Regions from separate parts of the Homo sapiens genome. Here region 1 is linked to region 2. Evidence: fine-mapped expression QTL. A gene starts in region 2. The other region holds a variant in brackets. All regions are shown on one strand. Distances are from middle to middle.

Region 1 (12,685 bases), 50 kb before region 2:
CTGGGTGAGCCAAGATGCTCTCAGACTGCTGGTCACTACACTCTAACGGGTGATGTCAGCCAAAGCTTTTAGTAGTGCAGAGACAGTGGAATCCATCCCCATTTGCATGTGCCAGCGGCAGTGGCAGCAGCAGCATGGCTGCAGTAGGGTGCTAGTGGGTGCTGGCATGCCTGCCTCTGTGGCAGCATTTACCACAGCAGCAAAGGGAACACAGCTGGCAGGGTGGGGGCCCCTTCTGGTGTCTGTGCATGTGGTTGCACCAGTAGTGGTGTTGACATGGCAGCAGGGTGCTGGAGAGCGCTCAGGGTAGGGAAGAGTCTGCTGTTCTCTGTGCCTAGTTTCACTTGGAGCAGTGCTGGCAAATGGGTGGGGCACTGGCAGGGGAGGGGTTGGGGCTGGCTGGCTCTGTGCCCACCAAGGCTCTGACTACAGTGGTGGTCAGAAGGGAGAGTGGAGCAGACTGCACTCCTGCTGCAGTACTTGCAGGGCAGGGTGTACACATACATGCAGGCTGGCAGGACAAGATAAGCAGAAGCTGCCCATGCACACACATGTTGGCAAAGCCATGTGCGGTGTTACCGTGGGCCTTGGGGAAGATGCAGTGTAGAAGGAGTGTGTGCACTGGTGTGTGGCCCTGGGAGCTGCCCCGGGGGAGCTCTTCGCATTTCAGGCATGGTCCACCAGCACTGGAGCTATGATGTGGGCCCCTAGGGTGCTCAAGGCTTCCCTGCAATCAGGCATGGCCAGGCTGGACCCTCAGAGAGGCCAGCGAACCAAGGAGTGCTCAGGTAGGACCAGCCCTGCCTGATGAGTAAGACTGCATTGCGAAGTTCAGGCCCAGTGGTTCCCTTAGGGTGAAAGTCTCCTATGGGAGCAAGTTGAGTCTAGGGGTGTGGCTGTCCTTGGCTGTGCTCCACTACAGCTGCTCTCACACCAAACCCTCTGGGTTCATCAGCTGGCTGCTGCCCTGGCTGCTTCTCCAAGCTTCTCTCCCTTGCAACTCTACTGTCCATGATGCTCAAAGGATCTCCTGCCAGGATTCCAGAGGCTGGACATAAGAAGCATTGCTTCTTGCAAGTTCAACTCACCCTTTCCCCCAGTCATTGGGGGCCAGGAATGAGTTCCAGGGTGCAGTAGCCCCATGCAGGCCTCCCAGCTTACTACCCCTTTAGCCTAGCTTCTGTGTCTTCCCTCCATCTACTCTCAGTGCCTTCCCTCTGAAGATCCATTAGTAGTGCACCAGTCAAATCAGTCCCTCGGTGGCAGCTGTTGCACCTGGCTGCATCTAGTTGGCCATCTTAACATGTATATTTCCATAACTAATTTTTGTGTGTTGATTTTGTACCCTGCAATTTTGCTGAATTAAAATTAGCTCTAGTAGGTTTATTTGTTTGTTTGCTTTTTGGCTCTGTCACCCAGGCTGGAGTACAGTGGTGCAATCTTTGGCTCACTATAACCTCCACCTCCTGGCTTAAGTGATCTTCCCACCTCAGCCTTCTGAGTAGCTGGGACTACAGGTGTGAGCCACCACACCTTGCTAGTTTTTGTACTTTTTGTAGAGATGGGGTTTTGCCATGTTGCCCAGGCTGGTCTTGAACTCTTGGGCTCAAGCAACCTGCCTGCATTAACATCCCAAAGTGTTGGGATTACAGGTGTGAGCCACCATGCCTGGCCAGTAGGTTTATGTATGGGTATATGTGTGTGTATGTATTCTCTTTTCTTGTTATAGGTCTATTGAGATTTTCTATTTCTTCTTAAGTCATATTTGGTAATTTGTGTGTTTCTAGGAATCTACATTTTATCTAGATGTCTAATTTTTGGAATATAATTTTTCATAGTATTGTCTTAAAAATCTTTAAAATTTCTGTAAGATCAGTAATAATGTCACCATTTTCTTTCTGATTTTAGTTATTTACTATTCTCTTTTTTTTTCTGAGTCAGTCTAACTAAAGGTTCATCAAATTTGTTTTTTTTTCCCATGAACCAACTTTTTGTTTTGACAATTATTTTTCCTCTATTCTCTATTTCATTCTGCTTTAATCTCTAGTATTTCCTTCCTTCAGCTGGCTGTAGGTTTAGTTAGCTCTTCTTTTACACCTTAGGTCAAGCTTGTCCAACATGCAGCCCAGGATAACTTTGAATGCAGCCCAACACAAATTCATAAACTTTACAAATAACAGAAAACAGTATGAGATTTTCTTGAGGTTTTTTTTTTTTTTTTTTTTTAGTTCATCACCTATTGTTAGGGTTAGTGCATTTTATGTGTGGCCCCGTAGCAGGACGAGCTGCAGACAAAACTACTCAGACACTGAGTTAAAGAAGGAAGGGGTTTATTCGGCTGGGGGCATCAGCAAGACTCCTGTCTCAAGAGCGAAGCTCCTTAAGTGAGCAATTCCTGTCCCTTTTAAGGGCTCACATCTCTAAGGGGGTGCGCATGAGAGGGTCGTGATCGATTGAGCAAGAAGCAGGTGTGTGACTGGGGGCTGCATGCCCTGGCAATTAAGAACAAAACAGGACAGGGATTTTCACAGTGCTTTTCTATACAATGTCTGTAATCTATAGATAACATAACCGATTAGGTCAGGGGTCGATCTTTAACTACCAGGCCCAGGGTGTGGCGCTGGGCTGTCTGCTTGTGGATTTCATTTCTGCCTTTTAGTTTTTTCTCTTTCTTTCTTTGGAGGCAGAAACTGGGCATAAGACAATATGAGGGGTGGTCTCCTCCCTTAGCCCAAGACAATTATTCTTCCAATGTGGCCAGGGAAACCAAAAGGTTAAATACCCCTTAGGTGTAAAGTTAGGTTGTTAATTTGAAATCGTTCCTTTTATCTTTTCTTTTTTTTTTTTTTTTTGAGATGGAGTCTTGCTCTGTCACTAGGTTTGAGTACAGTGTGCGATCTTGGCTCACTGCAACCTCTGTCCCCCGGGTTCAAGTGATTCCCTTGCCTCAGCCTCCTGAGTAGCTGGGAATACAGGTGCGCACCACCATGCCCAGCTAATTTTTTGTATTTTAGTAGAGACGGGGTTTCACCATATTGGCCAGGATGGTCTCGATCTCCTGAACTCATGACCCACCCACCTCGGCCTCCCAAAGTGTCAGGATTATAGGTGTAAACCACCGTGCCCGGTCTTTTTTTTTTTTTTTAATAAAATAAATATGAAACACTTCACGAATTTGCATGTCATCCTTGCACAGGGGCCAGGCTAATCTCTGTATTGTTCCAATTTTAGTGTATGTGCTGATGAAGCAAGCATGAGATTGTCCTTTTTTAATGAAAGTATTTATTATTATTATTATTTTTTGAGATGGAGTCTCGCTCTGTCGCCCAGGCTGGAGTGCAATGGCATGATCTCGGCTCACTGCCAGCTCTGCCTCCTGGGTTCACGCCATTCTCCTGCCTCAGCCTCCGGAGTAACTGGGACTACAGGCGCCCGCCACTGCACCTGGCCAATTTTTTTTTTTTGTATTTTTAGTAGAGATGGGATTTCACTGTGCTAGCCAGGATGGTCGCGATCCACCCGCCTCGGCCTCCCAAAGTGCTGGGATTACAGGCATGAGCCACCGTGACCGTCTGATGTAAGTATTTCCAGCTATAAGTTTCACTGAGTACCCCTGTCACACCATCTCATAAATTTTGGTATCTTGCATTTTATTTTAATTCATCTGAAAGTATTTCAATTTCTCTAGTCATTTCTTCTTTGAGCCACTGGTTAAGAATGTTGTTTAACTTTCACTTACTTGCAAATTCTCCAGGTTTTCCTGTTATTGACTTCTAGCTTCATTACACTTTTGTTGGAAAAGACACTTTGCATAATTTTTTTTTTTTTGAGACAGAGTCTCAGTCTGTTGCTCAAGGTGGAGTGCAGTGGTGTGATCTCGGCTCATTGCAACCTCTGCCTCCCAGATTCAAGCAATTCTCCTAGCTCAACCTTCCAAGTAGCTGGGATTACAGGTGCCTGCCTCCACTCCCAGCTAATTTTTTGTATTTTTTATTAGAGTTGGGGTTTTGCCATGCTGGCCAGGCTGGTTTCGAACCCCTGACCACAGGTCATCCACCCACCTTGGCCTCCCAAAGTGCTGGGATTACAGGCATGAGCCACCAAGCCTGGCCTGTTTTTTTTTTTTTTTTTTTTTTTTAAGACAAGTCCCGCTCTGTCCTGCAGGCTGGAGTGTAGTGGTATGATCTCAGGTCACTGCAGCCTCTGCCTTCCAGGCTCAAGCCATCCTCCTGCCTGAGCCTCCTGAGTAGCTGGGGCTACAGGCGTTCACCACCACTACAGCCGGCTAATTTTTTTATTTTTTATTTTGGTAGAGACAGGGTTTCACCATGTTGCCCAGGCTGGTCTTGAACTCCTGGGCTCAAGTGATCCGCCTGTCTCAGCCTCACAAAGTGCTGGGATTACAGCTGTGAGCCACCACACCTGGCCCTTTGTATAATTTTGACCTTTTAAAATTTATTGAGAATTGTTTTGTGGCCTAACATATGATTTATCATGGGGAATGTTCCATGTGCACTTGAGAGGAATATATATTCTGCTCTTGTTAGATGGATATCTTTCCATATGTCTGTTAGGTCTATTTGGTTTAGTGTGTTGTTCAATTCCTCTAGTTCCTTACTGATTTTGTCTAGATGTTCTATTTACTATTGAAGGTGGGGTATTGACTGGACACAGTAGGTCAGGCCTGTAATCCCAGCACTTTGGGAGGCTGAGGTGGGCGAATTGCTTGAGCTTGGGCATTTGAGACCAGCCTGGGCAACATGATGAAACCCCATCTCCACAAAAAATACACAGATTGGCCGGGTGTGGTGGCGTGTGCCTATAGTTCCAGCTACTGGGGAGGCTGAGGTGGGAGAATCGCTTGAGTCTGGGAGGCAGAGGTCGCAGTGAGCTGTGATAGAGTCACTGCACTCCAGCCTGTGTTGAAGTCTCTGTTATTGTAAAACTATTTCTTCCTTCAATTTTGTTAGACTGTGCATTTTAGAGCCCTTTTTTTTTCTTTTTCAGTTCATACGTATTTATAATTGTTACATCTTCTTGTGATTTGACTCTCTTACCAACATACGATGTCTTTCTGTAACATTTTTTGGCTTAAAATCTATTTTGTCTGGTATTAGTATAGCCACCCCAGCTCTCTTTTGGTTACTATTTGCATGGATTATCTCTTTCCGTCTTTTCATTTTGAAACAATTTGTGTCTTGGGTCTACAGTGAGTATTTTGTAAGTTGCATATTTGGATTGTGTATTACATCATTTAAAAAAAATCCATTCTGCCGATCTTTCCATTGGTCAGATTATTTACATTTAAAGTGATTACTGAAACAAAAAAGTTAATTGACCGGCATGGTGGCTCCCGCCTGGAGGTGAGGCTGCAGTGAGCCATGATCGCACCACTGCTCTTCAGCCTGGGGGACAGAGAGATTGACTCAAAAACAAAAAACAAAAACTTACTTATGGTTGGACTCAGGCCTGTAATCCTATCACTTTGGGATGCTGAGGTGGGCAGATTGCTTGAGCCCAGGCGTTTGAGACCAGTCTGGGCAACATAGCAAGACTCCTGTCTCTACAAAAAATAGAAAAATAAGCTGGGCATGGTGGTGCACACCTGTGGTTCCAGCTACTCAGGAGGCTGAGGTGGGAGGATCAGCTGAGCCTGCGGAGGTCAAGGTTGTAGTGAGCCGTGATTGTGCCACTGCACTCCAGCCTGGGCAACAGAGCTAGACCCCGTCTCAAAAAAACCCCAAACAGGCCGGGTGCAGTGGCTCATGCCTGTGCCTGGCACTTTGGGAGGCCGAGGCAGGTGGGCCACTTGAGGCCAGGAGCTCGAGAGTAGCCTGGCCAATGTAGTGAAACCCTGTCTCTACTAAAAATACAAAAAATTACCTGGCTGTGGTGGTGGGCGCCTGCAATCCCAGCTACTCAGGAGGCTGAGTATCACTTGAACTTGGGAGGCAAAGGCTGCAGTGAGCTGAGAATGAAACACTGCACTCCAGCCTGAGTGACAGAGCAAGACTCTGTCTCAGACAAACCCCAAAAAAGAAAAACAGAAAAACCTATACACCAAAGAACTTACTTACGTCATCATGCTGTTTAGTTTCTACATGAAGTGTTTTGCTCCTCAGTACCTTCTTTTGTGTTTGGTTAATGATTTATCCTGTAATATTTTGATCCTTTCTTAAATTCTTTTCTGTATATTTTAAAAGTTATTTTTTTAGTGGCTACTATGAAGATTTCATTTAACATGCTGAGTTCAAAGTCTAGTTCAGACTGATAGCAACTCAGCTTCAATAGCATACATTAACTCTGCTCCTTTCTCTGTCCCCTACCTATAGTTAACAAATTATGTCTTTAAACAATTAGTGCCTATTAACATAGATCCATATTATTTTATGCATTTTTTTTTTTTTGAGAAGGAGTCTCGCTCTGTCGCCCAGGCTGGAGTGCAGTGGCGCAATCTCGGCTCACTGCAAGTTCCGCCTCCTGGGTTCATGCCATTCTCCTGCCTCAGCCTCCTGAGTAGCTGGGATTACAGGCACCCGCTACCATGCCCAGCTAATTTTTTGTATTTTTAGTAGAGACAGGGTTTCACCATGTTAACCAGGATGGTCTCAATCTCCTGACATCATGATCCACCTGCCTCGGCCTCCCAAAGTGCTGGGATTACAGACTTGAGCCACCGCGCCCGGCCTTTATGCATTTTTTAAATCACAAAGAGGAATAGCATACCCAAAATACAGTAATACTAGCTTTTATATTTAGCGACATAGTTGCATTTACCAGTGCTCTTTATTTCTTCATATAGCTTTGAGTTACTATCTTGTATCCTTTCATTTTAGCCTGAAGGACTCACTTTAGCTTTTTTTTTTGAGCCCGAGTCTTGCTCTGTTGCCCAGGCTGGAGTGCAGTGGTGCAATCTCCACTCACTGCAACCTCTGCCTCCCACATTCAAGTGATTCTCCTGCCTCAGCCTTCCATGTAGCTGGGATTACAGGCACGTGCCATCACACATGGCTAATTTTTGTATTTTTAGTAGAGATAGGGTTTCACCATATTGGCCAGGCTGGCCTCAAACTCCTGACCTCAGGTGATCTACCCACATCAGCCTCCCAAAGTGCTGGTATTACAGGCATGAGCCACTGTGCCTGGCCAAGAACTCTTATATTTTTATTCATTTATTATTTTTGTTTAGTGACAGGTTCTTGCTCTGTCAACCAGGCTGGAGTGCAGTGGTGTGATCAGAGCTCACTGTAACCTCCAACTTCTGGTCTCAAGTGAGCATCATGAGTAGTTGGAACTACAGATGCA[T/C]ACCACCATGGCCAGTTAATTTTTTAAATTTATATTTTGTAGAGATGGGGTCTATGTTGTCCAGGCTAGTCTTAAACTGCTGGCTGCAAGCAATCATCCCGCCTCAGCCTCCTGAATAGCTAGGACCACAGGCCTGAGCTACCCTGTCTGGCTAATTATTTTTATTTTGTATAGATGGGGTCTCCTTACGTCACCCAGGCTGCTTGTGGACTCCTGGCCTCAGGTGATCCCACTTCAGCCTCCCAAAGTGCTGAAATTACAAGCGTGAACCCATGCTGAGCTCCCCCAACCCCCCCTTTTTTTTTTGAGATGGAGTCTTGCTCTGTTGTCCAGGCTGGAGTGCAGTGGCACCATCTCAGCTCACTGCAACTTCCACCTCCCGGACTCAAGCGATTCTTGTGCCTCAGCCTCAGTCAGCTGGGACTACAGGTGCACGCCACCATGCCTAGGTAATTTTTTTGTATTTTTAGTAGAAATGGGGTTTCACCATATTGGCCAGGCTGCTCTCAAACTCCATCCACCTGCCTTGGCCTCCCAAAGTGCTGAGATTACAGGCGTGAGCCACCATGCCTGGCCCCAGCTCCACTTTTGCATTCTTTTTTTTTTCTTCCCTGAGAGTAACATGGGGGAGACTTTAGCATTCTTTATAACACAAGTTTACTAATGATAAACTCCCTTGACTTTTCTGGGACTGTCTTAGTTTCCTTCATTTTTAGAGGTTATTTTTTTTTTTGAAAGATATAGGATTCTTGGTTGACTTTTTGCTGTCAGAACTTTTAATATATCATCTGTCAGTGGGAGAGAGGGGAAGAAGTGTCCTACTGCCTTCTGTACTCCGTGATTTCTGATAAGCAACTGTTAATCTTACTGAAGATCCCTTGTACAGGATGAATCACTTACCTCTTGCTGCTTTCCTGTCTTTAACTTTCTACAATTTGATAATAATGTGCCTCAGTGTGGATCTCTTTTAGTTTATCCTGCTTTGAATTTGTTGAGCATCTTGAATGTGTAGATTCACAACTCCCATCAAATGTGGGATATTTTTGGTCACTATTTTTATTATTTATTTATTTATTTATTTATTTATTTAGAGACGGAGTCTCGCTCTGTTGCCCAGGCTGGAGTGCAGTGGCGGGATCTCGGCTCACTGCAAGCTCCGCCTCCTGGGTTCACACCATTCTCCTGCTTCAGCCTCCCCAGTAGCTGGGACTACAGGCGCCCACCACCTTGCCCACCTGCTAATTTTTGGTATTTTTAGTAAAGATGGGGTTTCACCATGTTAGCCACTGCACCTGGCCTGGTCACTATTTCTTAAAAAAATCTTTCTAGGCCAGGGCACAGTGGCTCACACCTGTAATCCTAGCACTTTGGGAGGCCAAGGTGGGCGGACTGCTTGAGCCTGGGAGTTCAAGACTGGCCTGGGCAACATGGCAAGACCTTGTCTCTCCAAAAATACAGAAATTAGCTGTGCTTGGTGGTGGTATGGGCCTATAGTCCCAGCTACTTGGGAGGCTGAAGGGGGAGGATTGCTTGAGCCTAGGAGGTAGAGGCTGCACTTAGCCATGAGCCGTCAGATCACACCACTGCACTCCAGCCTGGAGGACAGAGCGAGACCGTCTCAAAAAAAAAAAAAACAAAAAACAACAACAAAAAAAAACCATAGGGATATATCTATCTGCATGACTATAGATTAGGCAATGGTTTCTTACATACACCCTAAAGCACACCAACCAGAGGAAAAATTAATTATGTTTTCTCAAGATTAAAAAGGAGACTATCAAGAAAGCACAAAGATAACAGATTGAGAGGAAATATTTGCAAAGTATATGCATGATAAAGGTCAATTATCTAGAATATATATTTCAAAAATTCATTTAGAGATAGGGTCTTGCTATGTTGCCTAGACTAGTGTTGAACTTCTGGGCTCAGGTGATCCTCCTGCCTCAGCCTTCTGAGTAGCTGGGACCATAGGCCTATACTACCACAACTGGCTGTGGAATATGTAAAGCACCCTTACCACTCAATAATGCGGACAAAACCCAATTTAAAAATGAGCAAAGGCTTTAAATAGAATAAAAATGAAACATTTAAGACTGCTGAAAGTGGTTGCCTTGGGGCAGTGGAAAATGGTGAGGCAGGTGGTGTCTGGATTGGAGGGGACGAGCTATTGTGAACAATAAACCTTGTATCACTATTTGGCTCTCTGGATCACGGTTCATAACAAGGGATGAATTTGTTCCACAGGGGACATTTGGCAATCTGAATATATTTGTCATTGTTATAACTGAGGGGGTCTTCCTGACATCTAATGTGTAGAGGCCAGGGATATTACTAAACATCCTACAAGGCAGAGAATTACATAGCCTAAAATGTCAACAGTGCTGAGGTGAAAAACTGAAGTATGTTTGAGGCTGGACGTGGTGGCTCATGCCTATAATACCAACACTTTGGGAGGCTGAAGCAGGTGGATCACCCGAAGTTAGGAGTTCGAGACCAGCCTGGCCAACATGGTGAAACCCCGTCTCTACTAATAATACGAAAATTTGCTGGGCATGGTGGCGCATGCCTGTAATCCCAGCTACTCCGGAGGCTGAAGCAGGAGAATCGCTTGAACCTGGAAGGCGGAGGTTGCGGTAAGCCAAGATCACACCACTGCACTCCAGCCTGGGTGATAGAGTGAGATTTCGTCTCAAAATAAATAAATAAATGAAGTATGTTTGATAAAAATACAAACACAAGTCAATAAAAGTCTGTTAAAAATATTAAAAAATCATAAAAACAATATTTTGTACAATATCCATAGATGTAGTTTTCTTCATGTGCCATGCTTTGACTACCTTAACAAACAGCAGGGCTGGGAAAGCCTGTCAGGGATGTTTAGTGAATATGGAATTTATTTGCTTGTGAGTTAACATGCCAGGCTTTTCTTTTTTTTTGAGACAGTCTCACTCTGTGGCCCAGGCTGGAGTGCAGTGGCGCAATCTCGGCTCACTGCAAGCTCCGCCTCCTGGGTTCACGCCATTCTCCTGCCTCAGCCTCCCAAGTAGCTGGGACTACAGGCGCCCGCCACCACGCCCGGGTAATTTTTTTGTATTTTTAGTAGAGATGGAATTTCACCATGTTAGCCAGGATGGTCTCCATCTCCTGACCTTGTGATCCGCCTGCCTGGGCGTCCCAAAGTGCTGAGATTACAGGCGTGAGCCTCCGTGCTCAGCCATGCCAAGCGTTTTTAAAAAAGTAAATCAGCTCTTTGGCTAGTCATGGAGTAAAAAAAAAAAAAAAAAGGAAAAGAGAAAAAATATAGAAAAAAGGAATGACCAATCCTACTAGTTAGGGTGCCAAAAGCACTGAAAATTCATGCCTTTACTTCTCATCTCCTTAATCAGGGATATTAGAATACACTGGTGTAGAGGCTCATAAAGCACCAGTTAAGTCTTCTTCAGGTGCTATATAAGTCATCTATGGCTATTTCAGAAGCAAGTAACTTGAGTATCGTGTGTGAGTTTTAAAAATAATTGAAAATAGGTCAGGCACAGTGGCTCACCCCTATAATCCCAGCACTTTGGGAGGCCAAGGTGGGTGGATCATGAGGTCAGGAGTTTGAGACCAGCCTGGCCAATATGGTGAAACTCCATCTCTAATCAAAATACGAGAAAATTAGCTGGGCGTGCTGGCACGCATCTGTAGTCCCAGCTGCTAGGAAGGCTAAGGCAGCAGAATTGCTTGAACCCAGGGGGCGGGGGGTTACAGTGAGCCGAGATCACGCTACTGCACTCCAGCCTTGGGGACAGAGCGAGACTCCGTCTCAAAAAAAAAAAAAAAAAAAAAAAAAAAAGAAAATTTCTGTCAAGGTAAAAAGAGTAATTGACCAGATTTTTAAAAACTAAAACCTTCAGGAGCCAAAATTACTGACACTAGTGCTCTCATCTTTATATAGCTAGCACAGGCAATTTAGTTTTCTAATATTACTATCAACAATACTCCTCAACATTAATCTTTAAAAAATTACCATTGGCCAGGCATGGTGGCTCATGCCTGTAATCCTAGTACTTTGGGAGGCCAAGGTGGAAGGATCACTTGAGTCCAGGAGTGTGAGACCAGCCTGGGCAACATAGGGAGACCTCGTGTCTACAAAAAAATAAAAACAATTAGCCAGGTGTCGTACCCATACATGTGGTCCTAGCTACTCAGGAGGCTGAGGTAGAGTAACTGCTTGATCCCAGGAGGTAGAGGATGCAGTGAGCCGTGATTGCACCACCGCACTCCAGCCTGGGTGACAGAGCAAGACACTGTCTCAAAAAACAAAAACCAACCCCCCAACCAAAAAAAAATCAGTATTTCCAATATATAGTCAAAGGCCACCACTAAGACTTATCCCACATTCACATGACTTAAATCTGCTGCCCCACCATTATTCTAACATTCTGGAACTGGTTTTTGTATCACTTTCCCCCTTACACATTTTAGTAGCCCACCTAGAGTGCAGATAGACACCACCATGCTGGGGAAGGGCTCACTATGCCCATATACTGGGGGCCTGTTTATCTGACTGACCCTATGCCAGGAGCATGCAGAGGCAGAACTGTGACATACGGACAAAGACCAAATGAAAGCCAGGCTTCACACTGGCAGTTAAGTAACTGGTGGAATCAAGTCTAGAATCCAGTTCTGATTACAGTTAGTATTCTCTCTTCAATAGTTGTTACATTCTGTGGCTAAATTATTCCACATTAAATCCCCTTTAGTGAAAAACGGCACTAAAAGTTACTTCACTATCAGCTTTCAACATTAGAGCCTCTTTCTCAAGAACAGCTGTTCATATTATTTAATAAAATACAAAATAATTCGAGAATAAAGACTATGCTTTCAGGGATCATTTCTATAGTTCGTTACTCGGGAAGTTTCTCTGAACGTGTAAAGCACCGAACAAAAAAAAAAAAAACAATTCAAGAATAAAATCTGGGCAGCTCACAATAAAGTGGAAGGAAATGTTATACAGGTGGTCGCTATAAACATTTCAGAAATCCAATTGCAGTATTATAACTTATGAAAAGAGAAACTACCACATGTAAAAACACAGAAAAGAAACGTAAGTTTTGGAAAACGTAGACTTTTAATAACTGCTTTTATCACCAGGTTAAGCCATGCAGTTACAAAGTAGTTAGAAATTTCTGAAGGGTGTTAGAGTTAAAAAAAAAAAAAAAGCTGACTCTTACACATATATTATCTAGCACTTCATGGGGACACTACTGTTCAAAAGGCCCTGGCCAAATAACTCCCAAATGAAACACTCAACCCAAGGATGTTTTCAGCCCACTGTTAGTGAAGCTGGGTGCAGAATGCAAAGCCTCTAAAAGGAGAGGATACAAAGTCAGGTGAG
Region 2 (12,685 bases):
GCTGATCACATGAGGTCGGGAGTTCGAGACCAGCCTGACCAACATGGCAAAACCCTGTCTCTACTAAATATACAAAAATCAGCTAGGTGAGGTGGTGCATGCCTGTAATCCCAGCTACTTGGTAGGCTGAGGCAGGAAAATTGCTTGAACCTGGTAAGCAGAGGTTGTAGTGAGCCAAGATCGCGCCACTGTATGCCAGCCTGGGCAACAAGAGCAAAACTCTGTTTCAAAAAAAAAACAAACAAAAAAACAAATAAACAAACAAGATTGTCCTTGGTTTCCTTGAACTCCTACTGCAACAACACATGATTTACTTTGTTTTGTTTTTTTTTTTGTCATTTATTGACTGGTTCTAGGAAAGGAAAATGTAGAAATGGAATACTGAGCTTATAGCAAAACAAAAAAGACATAGGGTACAAAGGAGATTTGAATCTGCTCTACTTGGGAGAAATCAATGAAAAAAAATATTCCAAGAAATAAAAAAATTCAACTTTGTTTTTTTAAAAGAACCCTCTGCATAAAGTTCAGAGATCTTGCCTGCAGGAACAAAAAACACATAATAGAAAAATTGATTTACTTAGAATATAGACTATAGTTCATAATAAAAGCAGTCCTTATTTGGTAAACCTTCAATACGAGTACATCACCCTTGGTTATTTCTTTGCTCTTTCTCTCTTGGCATAAAAGAAAAAAAAAATTCATGCAAAATCCTACTAAGGCCCAATATGTACAAAATATCTTTTAAAAGTCCTATGTTGATATATTTGTGATAATGACAAACGATAAAAGAAGTCATACTACTGACAACCTTTGAAATTTTCATTTGTCATCTTTCACATTTTCCTCTAGCCTAGAAGCAAATCAGAAGAATTACGTCTGATAGACTTTCTCCAAGAATAATAATCAAGAGAAATAGCAATTCATAATAAACAAAGCATTTTCTTAGTTTTTAATGAAGAAAACTAAGAAAGTAATTTCAAAATTATTCAATAGAAAATCTTTAAAGATAAATGGACTACACACTGGTAGAGAAATGAGTTGTTCTGGCTAACACATTAATCTCTTAAACACCAAAGTCTTCAAACCTCTTTTGATGGAAAACTGTTTAAAATGTTATTTCAGGTCTTCGGAGTTGGGTGTAGGGGAAAAAGGTTATTTCATTTCCTTAGCAATTAGAATAAATGGACCTCTAGAGATATCATCTATGCTGAGTTTTATATGCAAAGCTGTTTGAATATGTATTTTTCTAGGAAGAAGGTAGGTCTTCTAATAGCTTTTAACAGAAATTTCAAAGGTATCTATGATCCAAAGTATTAGGAAGCATTGTGTCAATGGCATGAAGTGGTTCTCAATCAGCGCTTACAATTAAAAGCCTAAGATACAATTTGTAACTTTTTGCATAAATAAATCCCAGACAACAATGATTAAGGTGGGTGCTGGAATCAGATGCCCAGAATCTGAACCTCAACTCCACTACGTACTAGCTGTGTCACCCTGCCAAAGGACACTTCACTCCTCAACCTTAGTAGCCACATTTGGAAATCAGGGACAACAGTGTATTGCATGAGGCATAAAAGCAATGATACATGAAAAGTTCTTACATGCATTGTTGCTATAAGGCATAGAACTGATGATGCATGAAAAGTTCTTAATAAAATGCCTGGCACACACAGAGCTGAATAAATGTTAGCCTTTGCTAATATCTGACCTTGGTGAAGGCAGTTGACCTCAAGTGAAGGCAGAATGTGTGTGGCTGCAGAATCTTCTAGGTGTAGTTGCCTTTTTGTAAAGATAATCGGAAGGTCTTGAGTAGCTCCTTCTCCTAGTTTGTCTTCTTGTCCTTAATAAAGCCTTTCCTGCCTTTAACAGTAGTATTTCACATATTAACAATTCCGACTTGATAGTGAACACTTGAATCTGTATTAATTTCTGCCTCTGGAAAGGGGAAAATATTGATTCATTTGAATAACTAGTCAGTTTTAGACAGCGGCATTAGATTTAAGACTGTTCATGGTTATATTGGGGGAAGGACTTGGGGTAGAGCTGCTTCACTTTTCATTTTGTAACTTTCGTTACTATTTGATTATGTGAATCATGCATGTGTATTTTATGGGTTGCTGAGTACAAAATTTATGGGCTATTTATGAATCAATGTGCTCTAAAGTGATACTAGAGATTTTTCTCTTTATTACTTACATTGTAAAAGCCTAATTATTGGGTAAAATAAATAGAAAAGAAGAACAGTCACGTGGCAGAGACTAGTGTCTAGGATTTTTTCAACATCTACAGGTTAGTATTTTAGTTTTTAATGGTTACAGAACCCTTAGTATTTTTAACATAAGTAAATAAAAACCGATTTTCCTAAGCACTCTGAATTATTAACAGCGGTAAACCTAATTTCTTCCCACTATATGCCAAAAGTTCAGGCTCAATTTTTATTTCTTGTACTTAAACACTACAAGTTGTACTGAACTTTAATATATATTGGTGCTTAGGATCCAATTTTTGATGCCCTAATTCTTACAAAGTATACTTTGGATAATGAGTGAGCAGCTGTTTGTCTTCCTGCACGTGGGGCTTTACTGCCAAAAGCAAACTTGCTAAATGGATTCATACACGCAAGTGACAGAAAGACTGAAATCTGATGTACAGATCACTACCATTACCAAGCGTCTTCATTTTCTAGTATACTTTGGGAGAAAAGACGCATTTGGCTTCCATGAAATAAAAAGGCATAAGGGCAACACATTTCCGTATTTAAATAAGATGTATTAAAAACAACAACCTCGGGGCTAAGTGCTTTTAAAAGACACACAAATTACCTATCCTCTGACTGAACTTTCAGAAAAGTCCTAAATTAAATTCACCTACAAAGGTTATATTTTATCTGTGGCAGCAGATGCAGACACACAGCCACTTAAAAATATTAGAAACTGTGAGTTTATTAAAAGTTACCTAAGTTTTGATGGTTGTCAATTGAGCACAGCAAAATAAGTCAGAAACATTTTTTCCCCCAGTGAAGGCAGAGAAATATCTCATTTTAAATCAGTATCAGTGCTTTCTATAGTCTTCCCTTAAGCGCTAAACAATGACATCCCAGAGGCTGAGGGCGTCTTTAACACTGCATTGACTCCGGTCTTCCCTTGCATTATGTCATCAAGATTCCACTGTTTCCTTCTGGCATTTTGACTTTTAAAAACTAGTTACTGGATTAATATAGGGTACACTTTTTTGGGTACTAATATTTGTAATTAAAAGACTTAGGGTCAATGTATGAGAGAACTCCATCTACGGTCCATCAACTATATGTAAATTATGATAATTTTAGAAAATTTTATGATAGTAGCATCAGTGATAGGGAATTTTAATAGTTTTAATATCAAGACAACTGGGGGGGGGCAGACTGGAAGAGAAAGTTAATTGACTCCTACCATCAATAAATTGCTATTATCAATCTGTACTTTCCCTCCAAACTGACTTTAAAACAATAAACTTCCTTCTAAAAAGGTAGACTGGTCTCAGGCAGAACCATAGCAAATGAAATACAGATAATTTACTCTGGGAAAGTTAATAGAACAATCTTTGATAATATTTCCAAACCCACCAGAACTTTTGAACCAGTCTTCTCAAATCAGTCGCATATTCTCACACTATGCCCCTTTGCTGGAAATATTTTTAAGGCCTCACTTAAACTTCCCTTCAGATCCTTTAGCTTACCCTTTCAAATCCTTAACACAGACAAATCTAACGGCCTCAGGTACATGTAGTAACTGGGAAAAGAAAAGCACAAAAACAGTGTGTATTATTAAATATTTACTTGGAAAAAGTACACATCAGCCACCAAGTCTTATAACCATCTGTTTCCCTTAGAGATTATTGCTAGATTGTTGCTTTGCTTCAACCTCAAGAATTTTAATTTAGAAAACTCAGGGATAAGGTTGTTCTTGAGGGAAAATGAGATACAGAAAGCTGAAGGTTGGTAAAAGGGTGGAGAGAGGCAGATGAGGTTTTTTTTTTTGGCAAAGAACCAATGGGAGAGAAGACAGGTTAGTGGGGAGAGGTAAGAAGAACGTGTTAAAATATGTTTAAGAGGGAAAGACAGAATTTCATAGGGATTATCCAAAGCATTTAAAAAAATCTCAATCACCTAATATATTCTGTGTTTCTAAGACTAGAGTGGGACTACAAAGGTTAACAATTTCTTAGACGTTAAAAAAGCTTTAAGAAAGAAGACCTGTCTCTCTTACAATGCACATTCTCTGCAAACAAGGGTGATAAATGGGTAGATAGATCTGGGGATGTCTTGAACACAAAGCATGGAAGGCTATAGTACCCAAATTTTGCTGATCATCTGTTTAGTATACTGTTTATTAAGCAAACTAAAATATTTAAGGGCTTTCATAGCTATGTAATCTTCCCCAATCCAGAAAGCCTTTCAAATTCCTGAAGATAATAAATTTGTCACTTTGTAGAGGCCAATTTTCTTTGATGTTCTATCAATGCTTGCAACAGTTTACTAGTAACAATTCAGTTTCTCCCTGTTTATATGCTGGGGGTTAATAGCATGTTTTTTTGTAAATGGGATAAACGGAACAGAAAATTGTATCTTACACTCTAGTACAAGCAAGTGCTACAGTAACAGTGCTTTGGTATGGCTGACCCAATTTGTTGCTAGGTTCAATATTTTGGCATTAAAACTGCTGTGGCAACAAGAGAAAGAGGACTCACAAACTATGGTAAACGAGTTGCTTCAGTGAGTTTGCGGAGCTGCGACTTATAAAAACAGGAGAGAGCTGGGCATCTGAAGAATCGAAGAAAAAGGATTTCAGAGACCAAATCATCCTGCAGAAAACCACATACACTGATTTATCTGTACACCTTTTAAAGGACTGGCAAATGCTGCCAGCAAGATAGTAAAAAATAAACTTGATGTCCGTTTTAAGAAAACGATGCAACTCAATATTTGCTAAACATTGCCTGAACTTCCTCCAACATCCTTATTTGCCTTTCTTTGGAGTCTGAACTTGTTTTCCTGGTTTGGATAATAAGGGAGTGGTAGGAAGAAGGCAGGCAAATGTAGGAGACTGACGGTGTGTACATTTTATACAATTTTGAAGCTAGAAAGGAAATCAGAGGTCAAAGTGGTTCAAACATTGGTTTTGGCTGAGGCAACCAGAGCTAGGGGATAATTAAGCTCCAAAGTTAAGTCCTAGAAGTGGGCGGGGTCAATGCAAATTTAGTAAATCTTTAAAAACAACCTTTGTCCCCCCTGCTGGGAACACCAGCACCGCTCAAGTTTTTTCCGGTACAGAGAGGATTTCTAAAAATCCTCATAAGTCAGCGGGCATAACTGAAAGACCACAGAACCAGGTTTACTGAGACATGGGTCTAGCCCAACATCCTCTGTGCTTCTCAGCCAATCCACCTCCAACAAGACTCCTCGCCTCCCTGGGCTCTTTATTCCATATAATTTTTCTTTTTTACAGTAGACAAAAGTGGTTTGTCCTTTCCATTTTATGTTACTAAAGAGGTATGATGCAATGTATTGGGGGGAAAAAAGCTCTTATTTGCTCGAAGAAAGCAATCTGACTACAGAGGCCAAATCTACAGACATTAAATGATTTAAACCACAGGATAACCCAGTGACTACCAAACATTATCTGACCCCTTTCTTCACGTACTATATTTTTCCTGAAGCTCAAATTCAGGGCTAGCCAGGACCAGTACACACCCCCAGAGCTATTTCATTCCATTGGCTGGCTGGCCATCCGCAGCCTACAACCTGTAAATTTACTGTCAGGACGCCAGGTGTTTATTTGTCAGAGATATTACATTGCTTGTGATTTTTTTGTGTTTTTCCTTTTTTTTGGTATAAAACAGAACTTGTCAGAATGGGAAAATTACTTAATTGAAACGATTAACGCGTGATTAGTAAATTCCTTTGGTTAATAAAACTGTCTAGATTTCAAACTTAGAAGCCAAGTCATTTTCTATGTTCGGATATCATCTGTCACTATTGGAACAGGAGTGAACAAATACCAGAAAATAATTTGACAGCTTGCATTTAGGGGAGACTCACAAAAGCCCAAGAACACTGACGAGGCATTATCACACGGGCAGGTCATTCCCTTTCCTAGAAGTGCATTTCGGCAGGACCCGCCGTGTGTGACACAGACACCGGGACCAAAAGGAGACCGGTGCAGCGTCTACTCTGCATGCAAGATCAGCATATACAGAGGCCCGGGGTGACGGCGCGGGGGAGGGGGCAGGCCAATCGCATGATGATTTTAAGGCGGAAAAATCACCATCCACAGAGCCGGCCACATCCGAGGCGGGGTGACCCGGGCGGGGACCCGGCCCGCTCCAGCTGGGCTGGGCTGGGCTGAGCAGCGGCCCCGCACCGGCAGGAGGCCGGAGGGGAGGGCCGCAGGGGAGGCAGGGAGGGCGGGACGGGGCCCGGCCGACGCTCACCTCCCTTGCAGGGCGTGCGGTGCTGGCTGTGCTGGGCCCGGTAGCCTTCGATGACCTCCCAGGAGCCGTCGTCGCGCCGGATGGGGAAGGAGAGACTCAGCACATGGTTGCAGGGCTTGATGATCCGCAGGATGCCGCGCACCCGGTTCCGCTTCTGCTCCTCGCTCTCCCGGGTCCTCAGGTCCTCCACCAGCTTGTCCTCCACGATGCTGGCGCCGCGATCGAAGAAGCCCTCCACCATCTTGAAGAAGTTGGGGTCGTCCTCGCGGTCGGCCACCGCCTCGCTGTAGTGGCGCCGGGCGGCCAATGCCAGCCCCGGCTGCGGGGCGGCGGCGGGCTGTCCCCGGGCCCAGCCCAGCAACGCGGCCGAGTCGGCGGACGCCGAGCCCAGGGCAGCGGGCCCGGCCCGGGACAGCAACAGCGCTTCGCCCAGGTAGCGGTACATGGCCACAAGCGGAGGGGAGGTGCGTGATGGTCGCGAAACAGGCGCGCTTTCTCAGACTCCCCGCGACTAGGGAGGAAGGGTCCCGCGCGGGTTGCCCTTTTAAGCCGCAGCTTCCTGCTTGCCCGGCTGTCCCCTCCCCTCGGGCGCTCGCCACCTAACGGGGAGGACGGACTTCGGGGACAGGGCGCCGCCCAGGGCGCCGGGCCTCCGCCTCCGCCGCGGCCTCCCCGGGCCTCGCTGGCGGCAGCGCGCGCCGGCGGGGCGTCGGGGGCGCGCAGGCGCGGGCGGGCTCGGCGCGCACGCTCGCGCGCCAGTGGGGAAGGGAGGGGAGGGGAGAGGAAGGGCGGGGAGGAGAGTGGAGGGGAACGGACGGGAGGGGCAGGGAGGGGAAGGTCGGGGCGGGTCGGGGCGGGTCGGGGCGGGCCCACGGGCGGCCGGATTTGCCCGGAGGCCGCACCCGCCTCCGGCGGGGCTCTCAGGTATGTGCGCCGCGGGGGTCCCTCAGGGGGGTTGGGGGTAGCCCAGGGAGGTCGGGGTCGGGGGCTGGCCTCTGTAGGGCGCTCAGAGGCCGAGTCCCCCCGAGCGCCGCGTGGGTGAGGCTTGGCGGTCTGGTCGGGGACCGGGTCATGTGAGTCACGGGCGCCCCTCCTTTCCGCCCGCGCGCCCTCGGAACGGGCGGCCCACCCTGGCCTGTCCTCTGGCGGCCTCAGGCCGGGGCCGGGCGTGCAGGGGCTGACACGTGGGCAGGAAAGCGAGGCAGAGCCGCCGCCGCGTAAGGCCGGGCTGAGGGCTCGGCGTCACCAGCCAGGGCTGCAGAGAGCGGCGTGGCACCCGGAGTTGGATTATGCGTGGCTGGCGTGAGCTGGAAGGGAGTCACTCGCCCACAAGCTCTCACCACGCGAGCTTTTATTGTCCCGTTCAACTGCTCCGCAGTGTGGAGATCGCATAGTTACGCACGTCGTGGTTGTGTCGCCCCACAGTACTGACTGCTTCACCTTTGCAGACAGAGGCTCCGGCCCGGCGCGGTGGCTCACGCCTTTAGTCCTAGCACTTTGGGAGGTCGAGGCTGGAGGATGGCTTGAGCCCAGGAGTTCGAGGCTGCAGTGAGCTACGATAGCTCCACTGCACCCCAGCCTGGGCAACAGAGGGAGACCCTATCTCCCTCTGAAATAGTCTAAAATAAGGAAACTAGAAATGCGATAATGCCCCCAGGAAATTCTTTCTCAGGAATATATGTATTTGTTAAATGGTTCAGTATATGATTTATTTTTTATTTTATTTATTTATTTGAGATGGAATCTTGCTCTGTCGCCCAGGCGGGAGTGTAGTGGCACCATCTCGGCTCACTGCAGCTTCCACCTCCCTGGGTTCGTTCTAGCGATTCTCCTGCCTCAGCCTCGGGGTAGCTGGGATTACAGGCCCGCGCCACCACGCCCGGCTAATTTTTGCATTTTTAGTAGAGACGGGGTTTCGCTGTGCTGGCCAGGCTGGTCTCCAACGCCTGACCTCAAGTGATCCGCCCGCCTAGGCCTCCCAGAATGCTGGGATTACAGACGTGAGCCACCGCGCCTGGCCTCAGTATATGATTTATAAGCTTTATGCTGTATGAGGGTTCAGTTATGTATTTATACATACTTGATAGGAAATGCTAAAGTTCACATTCCTATGGATAGCTTTTGGTGCTTTTCAAACTAACGAGGCTGGCACGGTGGCTCACGCCTGTAATCCCAGCACTTTGGGGGCCAAAGCAGGCTGATCGCTTGAGGCCAGGAGTTCAAGACCAGCCTGGGCTCGTCTCTATAAAAAGAAAATAAAAAATAAAGCTCTAATGACAGTCATTAAAACTAGCTGCCAAACACCACATTACTAGCGTTAGCGGTCTCAGTGTACTTGGGTGGTTTTAAAATGACACCCATTGGACCTGCAAAACGATGGTGCTTCCCGATATGTTCATGTTATTCATCTTTTAGAATATGGAAGAGAAAGTTCTTAGTTCTCGAAATATTGTGTAAAATATAAGGTGACAACCTGGATCTGTTAAATGACATTCATCTAAGTGTACTCTCAAAGTCAAAATTATCTTTTCATACAGGTGGAACTTATATTTTACCTTACTTGCTAAATAAGTCATTGTCATTAATTGTATTTGCACTGTGTTTTTCAGTGAAAAATGTACTCTGACCTGAATCCTGAATTTTCCTTGATGGTCAAAAGATTAAGGTATCAAATTTCCTTTTTTCTGGATGTATTATCGTTTTACTCTCTTACATTGCAATCCCCCACTCCTGCAAAAAACCCACGGAGTTTCAGAATAAAATGATTAGCATCAGTAAACATGGAAATATTTTTCTTTTTGGATTAAATTATTTGTTTATGTTCTGAGGAAAAATCTTTAAAAGCTTAGTTTTATTGTTTTTGTTGTTCTTTATAACCTTAGCCTTCAGAAAAATAAATGTTTAACTTTGCTTCTTCTGTGACTTGTTCACCTGAATTCAAGAAGGTGGAATTGGGCCTAAGGAGGTGGCTCACGCCTGTAATCCCAGCACTTTAGGAGGCTAAAGTGGGCGGATCACTTGAGGTCAGGAGTTCGAGACCAGCCTGGGCAACACAGTGAAACCTTGTCTCTACTAAAAATACAAAAATAAGCCAAGCGTGGTGGGGGGCCTACAAAAATTAGCCAGGCGTGGTGGCGGGGAGGGGGTTGGGCAGTGCTTGTAGTTCCAGCTACTTGGGAGAACCACTTGAACCAGGGAGAGAGGTTGCAGTGAGCCGAGATCGTGCCATTGCACTCCAGCCTGGGCAACAGAGCGAGTCTTCATCTCAAAAAAGGAAAGGCAGAATTGAAGAAGCTTTGGAAGAGGTGAGGAATAGAGCTGTGGAAATTACTATTTTTTTTTTAATTGAGAATCTCCTGTGTGTAGGTGCCTTACAAACTGGCTTCATGAGTACCCTATAAAACAGATGTTTTTATTTTTAAAATCATCATGGTTTTGTTTTGTTTTGTTTTTTTGAGACAGTCTTGCTCTGTTGCCCATGCTGGAGTGCAGTGGTGCAATCTCAGCTCACTGCAGCCTCTGCCTCCCAGGTTCCAGTGATTCTCCTGCCTCAGCCTCCCGAGCAGCTGGGATTACAGGCGCCCGCCACCATGCCAGGCTAATTTTTTTGTATTTTTAATAGAGACGAAGTTCCACAGTGTTGGCCAGGCTGTTCTCAAACTCCTGGCCTCAAATGATCTGCCCGCCTTGGCCACCGAAAGTGCTGGGATTACAGGTGTTGAGCCACTGCACCTGGTCATTATGTTTTAAAATTACATACAAGTTGTTAAAAAAATATGAACAGCAGAAATAGATTTTAGAAAAACAGAATGAAATTATCCATCTCTTCCCCCATTTAGTGAATATTTGGAGTATTTCTTTTCACACTGTAGGTATTATAATTCCTGATTTATTAGAAGCAGGGAGTGGCTGGGCGTGGTGGCTCATACCTGTAATCCCAGCACTTTGGGAGGCTGAGGCGGGCGGATCACCTGAGGTTGGGAGTTCGAGACCAGCCTGACCAACATGGAGAAACCCCATCTGTACTAAAAATACAAAATTAGCCTGGTGTGATGGTGAATCCCTGTAATCCCAGCTACTCAGGAGGCTGAGGCAGGAGAATTGCTTGAACCTGGGAGGCGGAGGTTTCAGTGAGCTGAGATTGCGCCATTGCACTCCAGCCTGGGTAACAAGAATGAAACTCCATCTCAAAAAAAAAAAAAAAAACAGGGAGTGAGGCCCACAGAAACCAAACAAATTGTTGATGATCACCAAGCTTGTAAATAGGGTAAGATTCAAACCTGTGTATCTGACTCCAAAGTTATACTATTTATACTATTCCAAGGAGTATTTTAAGTATTTGTTCCATTTAGTTAGAAATTATTTACTGTGATATAAAGTCTAATGAATTTCAACTTTAGATTTATGATTGCTTTTGTAAAATATACAGATAATTTGCAAAGTAAGGTTTTTTTTTATTTTTATTTTTCGAGACAGGGTCTCACTGTGTCACCCAGGCTGGAGTGCGGTGGCACGATCACAGTTTACCACAGCCTGGACTTCCTGGGCTCAGGCAATCCTCCCACCTCAGCCTCCTGAGTAGCTAGGACTATAGGCACCTGCCGCCACTCCCGGCTAACTTTTGTCTTTTTGGTAGAGGTGGGGTTTCACTATGTTGCCCAGGCTGGTCTCGAACTCCTGGGCTCAAGCGATATGCCCGCCTCTGCCTCCCACAGTGCTGGGATTCCAAGTGTGAGCCACCATGCCTCACACAATAAAGTTTAATTATTTGTAGTAATTTCCCATTCAAACGAAGACCAAAATTCAGCTTGAAGGGAACATTCAATAGCATTCCACAAAGTCAAATGAGTTTTCTGCCTTAGAGTTTTCCTTAGCTGGTTTAAAATTCCAGGTCTGTTTTTCTTGATCCATAGCATGCTTTTTTCTCTCTTAAAAATATTTTAGAAGAAGATTGTTAGGATTTAGAAAAACATAGCATATAAATTCTTGAACCATTCATTTTTAAAAATAATTTAATTTGAAAGGTAAAAATATACTTTCTACTTTCTGTCTCACTAAATCAGTCTATTCTGGACTTTTCCTATAAAAGATGTATGTGGCCCTTTGTGACCGTCTTCTTTCACTTGGCAGAGTATTTTAAAGGTTTATGCGTGTAGCATGTATCAGGTACTTCATTTCTTGTTATGGCTACATAGTTTTTGTTGTATGACTGTACCACATTTTAAAAATCTATTCATCATTGATGGACACTTGGATTATTTCCACTTTTTGACTATTCTGAATGATGCTGCGGTGAACTTTTGTGTGTGCATATGTTTTCAGTTCTCTTGGGTGCGTTTATACCTAGGAATGGTACTTCCATATTTAAATTTTTGAGGTACTGCCAAACTTTTCCACAGTGGCTACACCATTTTAATTCTTACCAGCAGTGAATGAAGGTTCCAATTTCTCTACTTCTTCACCAACACTTGTTATGTGTGTTTTTTATTATAATCATCCTAGTGGGTATGAAGTATTTATTTGCAGTTCCTTGATGACTAATAAAATTTAGCATCTTTCATGTGCTTATGGACCATTTTTATGTCTTATTTGGAGAAATGTCTATTCAGATCCTTTGCCCATTTTTAAGTCAGGTTGTCTTTTATTATTGATTTGTAAGAGTTTTTTTTTAATATGTTCTAGATGTAAGTTCCTTACCAGATTTGAAAATGTTTTCATCCATTCTTTAGGTTATATTTTCCCATTTTTCATAGTGACTTTGAAGCACAAAAGTTTTTAATTTTGATGAAGTCCAATTTATAAATGTTTTCTTTCGATACTTATGCTTTTGGTATCATATGTAAGAAATCATTGTCTAATTGGACTTCATGAAGATTTACTCCTTTGTTTTCTTCTAAGAGTTTCATAGGTTTAGCTTTTACATTTAGGTTTTTATCCATTTTGTGTTACTTTTTCCGAGAAAAGGATCCAGTTTCATTCTTTTGCACGTGGCTATCCAGTTCATTTGCTCAAAAGACTATTTCTTTCCCATTGAATTGTCTTCACACTCTATGAAAAATAAATTGACCTAAATGTGAAAGTTTATATCTGGACGCCAGTTCAGTTCATCCATATGTCTATCCTTATATCAGTATACATTGTCTTGATTACGCCAGTTTTTTTTTTTTTTTCGAAATGGAGTCTCACTCTGTTGCCCAGGCTGGAGTGCAATAGC

Evidence for each region. PIP is the estimated chance that this variant, and not a neighbour inherited with it, causes the effect.
Region 1: its variant is the best candidate, but not a certain one, in a credible set for the expression of SHLD2 in whole blood (TOPMed, PIP 0.68).

The regions. Positions count from the first base shown.
Region 1 is chr10:87,038,087-87,050,771 of GRCh38, forward strand. GLUD1 (glutamate dehydrogenase 1) reads right to left here. Exons shown (of 13, transcript NM_005271.5): 13 at 12,116-12,685. It also overlaps the pseudogene RNU6-529P. Among named protein-coding and RNA genes, the nearest start is that of FAM25A, 24 kb to the left of the region's middle. The variant T/C (reference allele first, on the strand shown) is at 7,306.
Region 2 is chr10:87,087,854-87,100,538 of GRCh38, forward strand. It overlaps SHLD2 (shieldin complex subunit 2), which reads left to right and starts at 7,353. Exons shown (of 10, transcript NM_001330112.2): 1 at 7,353-7,395; 2 at 9,081-9,136. It overlaps GLUD1 (glutamate dehydrogenase 1), which reads right to left and starts at 6,990. Exons shown (of 13, transcript NM_005271.5): 1 at 6,472-6,990. The coding sequence starts at 6,916. RefSeq lists enhancers at 5,002-5,539, 7,944-8,003 and silencers at 6,224-6,563, 6,764-6,903, 7,024-7,723, 7,644-7,901.